Linked DNA regions of Homo sapiens. The protein of the gene in region 2 interacts with the protein of the main gene of each other region in a pairwise test. Each region holds a gene or a part of one and is shown on either strand. Other genes may lie near its edges.

What was found. Proteins that work in one complex are often made in the same cells at the same time.
Region 1: the proteins of PCSK5 (region 2) and ZNF837 interact in binary tests that used the Homo sapiens proteins (3 or more experiments, as listed by UniProt).

What each region holds. Positions count from the first base shown.
Region 1 is NC_000019.10:58,374,174-58,378,681, reverse strand, and holds part of ZNF837 (zinc finger protein 837), read left to right. Parts: intron 1-572; exon of another isoform or gene 573-1,099; intron 1,100-4,028; exon of another isoform or gene 4,029-4,508. UniProt on the Homo sapiens protein: May be involved in transcriptional regulation.
Region 2 is NC_000009.12:76,330,010-76,335,849, reverse strand, and holds part of PCSK5 (proprotein convertase subtilisin/kexin type 5 isoform 3 precursor), read right to left. Parts: intron 4,931-5,840; exon of another isoform or gene 4,297-4,930; intron 3,418-4,296; coding exon 3,240-3,417; intron 1-3,239. UniProt on the Homo sapiens protein: Serine endoprotease that processes various proproteins by cleavage at paired basic amino acids, recognizing the RXXX[KR]R consensus motif. Likely functions in the constitutive and regulated secretory pathways.

The DNA of each region.
Region 1 (4,508 bases), on a different chromosome or scaffold from region 2:
CGGGGTTAGGACATTGGATATATCTTTTGCAGCCTCCTTCAGTGGAACCTGCCTGATCCTGGGTGACCTCATGTGCCCATCCATTCTTGGGCCTGTCCACTGATTCCATGGTGATCAATTGTCCCTGTTTGGCCAGGCTGTCCCAGGTATGGTCTTTCACCCTGGGAAGTCCTCAGCCCCTAAGTCCCTAGAGTTCTAGGAAGTCATGCTGAGTGCTGGTCCTAGCCCTGCTCATGCCACCAGCTGTTGTACAGACTGTGACATGAAGCCAGCAGCCTTGGAGCTAATAGCAAGGCAGGTGCCCAAGTCCCTCCATCCCTGACATCTGGGTCTCTGTGACCTGGAGTTGTGTCAGAGAGGTCCAGATCCTGGCTGTGGGGCTTCTGGGATGGCACATTGTGAAAGCGGGGCCCCTGACCTCCTGCTGCTCAGCATCCATAGTGGCATGCTCCCTCCTCCGTGTAAAGGGCTGGAGTCCACACTGGTACCCCCATCAGAGTCTATGGCTGGGGAGTTCCCTGCCCTATGTGTGGGGACCTCAGATCCCAGCCTGGCAATGACCCTGGACCAACCCCTTTAGCAGTGGGTCCTGGTGGCTTTCTCAGGAGCTCTTCAGTCAGCCTGGCCTCTCAGAGGTAGACGAGGGAACACTACAAAACCTGCAGTGCTCAGAGACAGAGGCTTGAGAGAGTGTGGGGAGGTGGGCAGGATGGGCCTGCCCCGAATAGCCAGGTCCACGGCCAGCAGATGGACTCGAGAGAGAGAAGCCGACACCTGTGAGAAACGCCAGATACTGTGTGTGGTGGTTGGGAGCCAGCAGGCAGCCTGGGTGTGGACAGAGCTCCATGGTCAGACAGACCAGAATGTGTGTCTCCATGTCTTGTGTCCTGCCCTCAGTCTCCTCCCTCCCGTCACAACTTCCCATGTGGTGGCAGCAGTGCCCTTGGGTGTGTGCCCCTGTAAGGAATTGCCCTGTGCCCTGAATATCATTCCCAGCGAGCATGTTCAGTTTCTAATGAAGAGTTTTCTTTGCTTTCTTTTTTTGAGATGTGGTCTCACTGTGTTGCCCAGGCTGGCGTGCAGTGGTGCAATTGTAGCTCACTGCAGCCTCAATCTCCCAGGCTCAAGCGATCATCCCACCTTAGCTTCCTGACAGCTGGGGCTACAGGCTTGCACCACCACACCTGGATAGTTTTTTTTTTGAGATGGAGTCTCGTTCTGTCACCCAGGCTGGAGTGCAGTGGCAAGATCTCGGCTCACTACAAGCTCCGCCTCCCGGGTTCACACCATTCTCCTGCAGGCGCCCACCACCACACCTGGCTAATTTTTTCTATTTTTTAGTAGAGACGGGATTTCACCATGTTAGCCAGGATGGTCTCAATCTCCTGACCTCGTGATCTGCCCACCTCCCAAAGTGCTGGGATTACTGGTGTGAGCCACTGCGCCCAGCCTTTTTTTTTTTTTTTTGACGGAGTCTCGCTCTGTCGCCCAGGCTGGAGTGCAGTGGCACGATCTTGGCTCACTGCAACCTCCGCCTCCCGGATTCCAGTGATTCTCCTGTCTCAGCCTCCCGAGTATCTGGGATTACAGGTGCGCGCCACCTCGCCTGGCTAATTTTTTGTATTTTTAGTAGAGATGGGGTTTCACCATGTTAGCCAGGCTGGTCTCAATCTCCTGACCTCGTGATCCACCCACCTTGGCCTCCCAAAGTGTTGGGATTACAGGCATGAGTCACCACGTCCGGCCATTTTTTTTTTTTTTTTTAATAGAGACAGGGTTTCACCATACTGCCCAGGCTGGTCTCTAACTCCTGGGCTCAAGCCATCCACCCACCTTGGCTTCACAAAGTGCTGGGATTATAGGCATAAGCCACTACACCCAGCCAAGTTTTCTCTTTGATATGAGTGAATTAACAGACACCTGGTTAAAGAAAATGCTTTTACCCCAGAGCTTAAGCCTCTGATGTGGAAACTATGCTTGGTACTCTGGTATGCAGTTGACTTGGCTGTGTGTGAGAAATTATTTTATTTTTACCTAGAGATTTAAAAGAACTTGTTTTTCTCTTTTTTTTTCCTTTTTTCTTTTCTTTCTTTTTTTTTTTTTTTTTTTTTTTTTTTTTTTTTTTTTGAGACAGAGTCTTGCTCTGTCACCCAGGCTGGAGTGTAGTGGCCTGATTTTGACTTATGGCAAGCTCTGCCTCCCGGGTTCAAGCCATTCTCCTGCCTCAGCCTCCGGAGTAGCTGGGACTACAGGCGCCTGCCACCACACCCGGCTAATTTTTTGTATTTTTTTTAGTAGAGATGGGGTTTCACCGTGTTAGCCAGGATGGTCTCGATCTCTTGACCTCGTGATCCGCCCGCCTCGGCCTCCCAAAGTGCTGGAATTACAGGCGTGAGCCACCGCGCCCGGCCAAGAACTTGTTTTTCTCAATACAAATGTATTGCTTAAAAGAAACCACCTTCGGCCGGGCGCAGTGGCTTGTGCCTGTGATCCCAGCACCTTTGGGAAGCTGAGGCAGGGGGATCACTTGAGGCCAGGAGTTTGAGACCAGCCAGGCCAACAGGGTGAAACCTCATCTCTACTGAAAATACAAAAATTAGCTGGGCGTGGGGGCAGGCACCTGTAATCCCAGCTACTCGCCAGGCTGAGGCAGGAGAATTGCTTGAACCTGGGAGGCAGAGGTTGCAGTGAGCCGAGATTGTGTCACTGCACTCCAGCCTGGGCAACAGAACGAGACTCTGTGTCAAAAAAATAAATAAATAATAAAATAAAAATAAATAAATAAACCACCTTCATCCCATGCAGTGCTTTCGTGTGACCAGGGCTCAAATGACATCCTGGATGTTGCAGGGTGGGCCGACGCCTGACAGGCTGCAGGAAGGAGCACTGTGGCATGGGTGCATTCTGCTTTAAAAAAAAAAAAAAAGATATAAATCAGCTGGGCGAGGTGGCTCACACCTGTAATCCCAGCACTTTGGGAGGCCGAGGCAGGCGGATCATGAGGTCAGGAGTTCGAGACCAGCCTGACCAACATGGTGAAATCCCATCTCCACTAAAAATACAAAAATTAGCCGTTCTTGGTGGCACATGCCTGTAATCCCAGCTACTCAGGAGGCTGAGGCAGGAGACTTGCTTGAACGCGGGAGGCAGAGGTTGCAGTGAGCTGAGATCACACCACTGCACTCCAGCTTGGGTGACAGAGGGAGACTCCGTCTCAAAAAAACAAAACAAAACAAAACAAAACAAAAATATATAAATCATGTAACAAATGAACCATTTTACAATTCAGGTTGGGTTTTAGTATATATATATCTCTAATATATATTTACATTCTATATAAATATATACTCTTAAGTATATATGTAATTTTATATATATATATATATATATATATATATATATATATATATACTTTTTTTTTTTTTTGAGACAGATTCTCGCTCTGTTGCCCAGGCTGGAGTACAGTGTTGTGATCTCGGCTCATTGCAACCTCCTCCTCCCAGGTTCAAGCAATTCTGCCTCAGCCTCTCAAGTAGCTGGGACTACAGGCGCCTGCCACCACACCTGGCTAATTTTCATATTTTTAGTATAGACAGGGTTTCACCATGTTGGCCAGGGTGGTCTCGAACTCCTGACCTCAAGTGATCCACCTGCCTCAGCCTCCTAAAGTGTTGGGATTACAGGCGTGAGCCACTGTGCCCGGCCATGTTTTTGTGTGTGTGTATATATATATATAATTTTTTTTTTTTGAGATGGAGTCTTGCTCAGTCGCCCAGGCTGGAGTGCAGTGGTGCGATCTCGGCTCACTGCAGCCTCCACCTCCCAGGTTCCAGTGATTCTCTGCCTCAGTCTCCCAAGTAGCTGGGACTACAGGAATGTGCCACCACACCCGGCTAATTTTTGTATTTTTAGCAGAGATGGGGTTTCGACATTTTGGCCAGGCTGGTCTCGAACTGGCCTCAAGTAATCTTCCCACCTTCGCCTCCCAAAGTGCGGGGATTACAAGTGTGAACCACCGCCTGGCCAGGTTTTAGTATATTTTTTAGGTTTTAATATATTCACTATGTTGTGCAACCATCACCACTATAATTTCCAGAACATTTTAATTACCCCAAAACTTGATACCCGTAAAGCAATTACTCCCCACTCTTTCCCCTCAGCCCCTGGCGACCACCAGTCTACTTTCTGTCTCTGTGGATTTGCCTATTCTGGATATATCGTATAAATGGAATTATGCAATATGTGGTCTTTTGTGACTCACTGCTTTTACTTTCCATGTTTTCTAAAGTCCATGTTGCAGTATGTGTTAGTACTCATCCATTTTTATGGCTGAATAATATCCCATTCTATGGATATACCACATCTTATTTATGCATTTGTCATTTTATATACTTGGCTTGTTTCTCCATTTTGGCTACTGTGAACAGCGCTGCTCTGAACATCTGTGAGCCAGTGTTTGCTTGAATGCCTGAGTTCATTTCTCTTGGGTGGATACCTAGGGGTGGAAT
Region 2 (5,840 bases):
GTTGTAGAATCAAATCATAATGTAAAGATATATTGTGAGTGGAAATACTTTGTAACTCTTAAGCAGCATACAAAAGTTTTTTTACCTACTGTTTTTATTATAGATTGTTATAAAGATGAAAAGCATCAGTAGGAACTGTGGGAAAGAAAGCTTATCAATTCTAAGTAGGTTTTTAAAATTATCAAGGAGTAATGCTAAAAGAGACAATGAAGAGTTTATTGGAACAGATTAAAAGAGTACAACACCACTGCTTGCTTTGAGGACTCATCTTTTGAGCCTCCCAGCCTTGAAGAGCATAAGCACAAGCAGTAACCTAGGCTTTAAAGAAACTTCTCTGAGTTAAACACCAAAATAATTACGTGGGTTGGGATAGGGTGCAGAGAAGTGTATGCCTACTTTTCCAAGCCAGAGATTTAACATACAAGGGTTATGCCAAGCATGTGGAACACTGATTTTACTAAAGGAAGAGTTCTCATATACCTCATGAATATTCCATTTCTTCTTTATTAAAGAGATCTATGGCAACCTGTGCCTCCCCCCACCAGCCCTGGGGAACTTTACACGCTGTGGAACAATTGTCTTCTTAATTCCATGGTCTGCATTCTACTTAGATCACAGGATGATCAAGCACCCTTTTTGTGTTTGAGAGTGTTTACTGACTTGATTTGAGGAAGATGGGATCCAGATCTTTTCAGACACTTACTAGGGTGATGCAGAAGGGCTAAGCCAGGTAGCTTCATTCCTGTTTTTGTTTGTTTGTTTGTTTGTTTTTAAGACAGGGTCTTGTTCTGTTGCCCAGGCTGGAGTGCAGTGGTGCGATCTTGGCTCACTGAAACCTTCACCTCCAAGGTTCAAGCAATTCTCATGCCACAGATTCCCCAGTAGCTGGGATCACAGGTGCCTGCCTGCACACCCTGCTAATTTTTGTATTGTTAATAGAGACAGGGTCTCACCATGTTGGCAAGGCTGGTCGTGAACTCCTGGCCTCAAGTGATCTGCCCGCCTCAGCCTTTGAAAGTGCTGGAATTACAGGCATGAGCCACCACACCTGGCCATCCATCTCTGTTCTTGTCTGGCAGGGCCCTTTCTTCCTTGATCTATATGACTGGTGTTTTTCTTCTTTTCTGAGACAGAATCTTGCTCCAGGTTGGAGTGCAGTGGTGTGATCTTGGCTCACTGCAACCTTGGCCTCCTGGGTTCAAGCAATTCTCCTCCCTCAGCCTCCCAAGTAGCTGGGATGACAGGCACGTGCCACCATGCCTGGCTAGTTTTTGTATTTTTAGTAGAGATGGGGTTTCACCCTGTTGGCCAGGCTGGTCTCAAACTCCTAACCTCACCTCCCACCCACCTCGGCCTCCCAAAGTGCTGGGATTATAGGCGTGAGCCACCCTGCCCAGCCTGGCTGGTGTTTTTCAAGAGCTGCCAATGTGTGGCTCTGTGCTGAGTGTTGTAGAAGCAAATGTAAGACGTAAGAGGTGTTTTTCTTCCATGAGTTTATAATTTTCTTGGGAAGAGGCATATAAAAATAAGAATAAACTCTTAAAGTCAGTGATATGGTTTGGTTCTGTGTCTCACCCAAATCTCATCTTGAATTGTACTCCCATAATTCCCATGTGCTGTGGGAGGGACCCTGTGGGAGATGGTTGGATTGTAGGGGCGGTTTCCCCCATGCTGTTCTTGCTGTTGTGAATAAGTCTTACGAGATCTGACGGTTTGATAAGGAGAAACCCGTTTCGCCTGGCTCTCATTCTCTCTCTTTGCCTGCCGCTATCCACATAAGATGTGACTTGCTCCTACTTGCCTTCTGCCATGATTGTGAGGCCTCCCCATCCACATGGAACTGTAAGTCGAATTAAACCTCTTTAGTTTGTAAATTGCCCAGTCTTTGGGTATGTCTTTATCAGCCGCGTGAAAACAAACACAGTCAGTCTTTCTTTTACTCATCTTATTTATACATACAAAGTACTCATCATGAAATGTGTTAAATAAATAAGTGAATGAATGAGATAAATCAAAATGCAAGGCAGCATATAGCACTAAAATGAATGAAACAAGCAGTAACTGCTATAGGACCGAAGAGATGTGTCAATTTGGGTGAAAGCATTTGAGGAAGGTCTAAGGTTACAGCCCTTGATTTGGGTCTGGAAACTCCCAGTGCTCTAGGTTATTGATTGGGTAGAAAGAGTCAGCAACAGGCCTATCATCAATCTTTTACTCTTTACTGGGAATGCCTGGGGGAGAAAAAGGATATGCTGGCAATCAGACCTTCTGATAACACTAACAGTTCTTCCTAGCAGAAAAATAATAGAGTCCTTATCCATGAAATGCTTTTAGAAGGATACATCAAGTGCGTGTGTCTACGTTGTTTATGATAACAAAACCTGTAATTTGTGGATTTATAGGTGACATGACAGGTTGGGGAATTAATGGGGAATAAATGGAGATGTTAATGGAACTATTTCCTTTGTAAATCAATGTTCCACACTCACTGCTCTCCTCACATAAGCAGGTTGGGAGAATGTGAGACCCTGAATTTTAAATCTGAATCAGAACAAGTCCTGAAGGTGAAGAAAAAGAACCTCCATTAATGATCTTGGGCTTCTCTGAGGAAAGGATGCTTTGCTTCTGCCTTGTGATTGCTGAGACCCTTTGCCAAATTGTTTTAATTTTTAGAAACAAGGTCTTGCTCTGTCACTGAGGCTGGAGTGCAGTGGTGCAATCATAGCTTACTGCAGCCTCCAACTCCTGGGTTCAAGTGATCATCCCCTGCCTCAGCTTCTATAGAAGCTGGGACTATAGCCTGATGGCACCATGCCCAGCTAATCTTATTTTAATATTTTACAGATGGGGTCTCAAGATGTTGCCCATACTGGTTCAAACTCCTGCCTTAAGTGATCCTCCAGCCTCAACCTCCCACGTAGTTGGGATTACAGGCATGAGCCACAGTGCCCAGCTGCCAATATGCTTTGAATTTTCAGTAAGGACTGTCGTTGAGGAAGATCAATTGCTCAGGTGAGTCCGGCTTGACAATCTGACCCTTTGTGTTAACTCACTCGGTCACTCTGCCTCTCCTGTTTCTCTTCTGTTACTGTGAATTGGTTCATCTTTGCTCCTTACTAGCACTGAGACTTCAACCTGGTTTTATAAGTGTTCTGAATCTTAGTTTCCTCATTTGTAAAATGGGTTGATATCTGCTGTGGCTGTGAAATTACATGGGGGAAAATGTATTGAGCACTTACCCTTCCCTGCACTGGAGCAGGCACTCTTTTCCTAGCTGGAACCAGCCCGGTCGGCAGGAGTGGCACTGCCTGCTGTGTCTCCCTTCACATGTCCTGCAAGAGCTGTGGCAGTGGGCACACCGGTTGCTGTCCTCATCGGCATAATAGCCCTCTGGGCAGTCCTTCACACAGGTTGTGTCTGTCATGGGAGAAAAAATGTCTATTTGGACATCGAGCATGACACATGTCTCCCCTGTATTTTCCCTCTTGTGTACCATGGCGGGAGGGAGGAGAGGGCTGCAGGAGGAATGGGATGATCCTGTGAGCTGATGGATATGTTTGGGAAATAAGATTAGTGTCCAAGAAACAGAATTGCCCTAAGGCCATGAGGAATACAAGGAAAACAGAAGTCAGTGATATGGTTTGGCTCTGTGTCCCACCCAAATCTCATCAGTGATCCCATCTCATCTCATCAGAGATCCAAATCTCATCTGTGTCCCACCCAAATTTCTCAGTGGATTAGCTGTGGTGGGTAGAACAGAAACTACAGTCCGGCGCCTGTGGATGTTGGCAATGGCTCATTGTCCAGCTCATGTATCTGGTTAACTAGGGGGAAGCCCCAGCTTCCTGAAGGAAAAACACCGCCGTATTAGTCTCTTATTGCTGTTCCTATGAAGTATCCCCAACTTGGGGCCTTGAAACAACAATTTATTATCTTACTGTTCTGGAGGTCAGAAGTCCAAAATAGATCCACAGGGCTCTGTTCCTTTTAGAGGCTCTAGGAGGGAATCTGTTTCCTTTCCTTTTCCACTTGCTAGAGTCCACCTGCATGCCTTGGCTCATGGCCCCTTCCTCTGTCTTCAAAGGCAGCAGTGCAGTAGCTTCTCTCTGTCCCTCTGCTTCTGATCACATCACCTTCTATTACTGACTCTGATCCCCTGGCATCTCTCTTTTTTTTTTTTTTTGAGATGGAGTCTCACTCTGTCGCCCAGGCTGGAGTGCAGTGGCACAATCTTGGCTCACTGCAAGCTCCACCTTCCGGGTTCACACCATTCTCCTGCCTAAGCCTCCCGAGTAGCTGGGACTACAGGCACCTGCCACCACACCCAGCTAATTTTTTGTATTTTTAGTAGAGACGGGGTTTCACCGTTTTAGCCAGGATGGTCTCGATCTCCTGACCTTGTGATCCGCCCACCTCGGCCTCCCAAAGTGCTGGGATTACAGGCGTGAGCCACCATGCCTGGCCCACCCCCGGCATCTCTCTTATCAGACCCTTGTGATGGCATTGGGTCTACGTGGATAATGCAGGATAATCTCTCTATGCCGAGATCCTCAACTAAATCACTGCCCCAAAGTCCTTTACCAAGTAGAGTAATACATTTACAGGATCTGGGGATCAGGATGTGTCATCTTCAGGGGGGCCATTATTCAGTCTACCACGATGTCCAAAAAAAGTATCTAATTTATAAATAGCCTGACCCTGGTGGTGTGGTGGTGTGGGACAGGGTAGAGAGAATGTGAGGATACCAGGCTGAGCAAATCTGCACCCATTTCCCAGGGGGACTACAGCTCTGTGTCCTATACCAGCACTGAAGCCTCAATTCTAGTCTAATCTGCAGCCTCGGATGAGGGGAAGACCACTTTGTGGAGGCAAGCTGTCTTCTCTATATGAAGGCATCTGAGATGATTACTGGTGGCACTCTAGATTGGACGTAAGTAGAAAAGAAGGTCCGACGGGGTGGGATTACCTGGGAGACGTGGCTGGAGGGAATGCTTTTATGAAGCAGCAACTGCTGGGAAGGAGAGTCACAGAGATTTGTGGACCAGGAGCTAAGGTAGATGGATAGAGAAGACTGGTCTCTTTGAGTGTTTTCTATTGTGAAGTGATCAGGAATGGTATTGAGAATAGGTCTCCCTGTGTCTTAGCAGGGGGATGGTGTCCTCGCTCAATATGAAGAGGAAAAGCTTGCCATGCATGTCTTTAAAACATTTTTTTTTAATGTTTAAAATTTTTAAATTTAAAATTTTAATTTTTTTCCATTTTTTGTAGAGATGAAGTCTCACTATGTTGCCTAGACTGGCCTTGAACTCCTGGGCTCAAGCAATCCTCCTGCCTCGACCTCCCAAAGTGCTGGGATTACAGGCATGAGCCACTGCGCCCAGCCTACCACACATGTCTATTTGGAGTTTCACGCTTCTCAGGTCTACTCTCCTGGTGGGGGAGAAAAGTGCTCATACTTCCTGGTCTTCACCATATTCATCTCTCTCTTCTGTCTCCTATGACTTCTTTTTTAGTTAAGTTTTGTTTCATTTTCTTTCTCCCATGCTTGTTTTAAGCCTAGTCACAGTATCCCTGGGAACCTGAGGACATTGTTTCATATTAGCAATAACCTTCAACTCTGATCTGTGGGACCGTGGCCAACCTTGACCTGTGCCACTTTTTGCTCAAGAGGGATTTCTTAATCAACCATGCTAAATGGAGGGGAAATTTTGATGAGGAGCTGAATATCTACATGTTCTTAAAGTGTAACCCCACAGGCTACTTATTAGTTACAAGGGAATAAATAGTAATTATGCAGTAGGGAAACTGAACATCTTGGCCAGGTGATCAACATTAATATC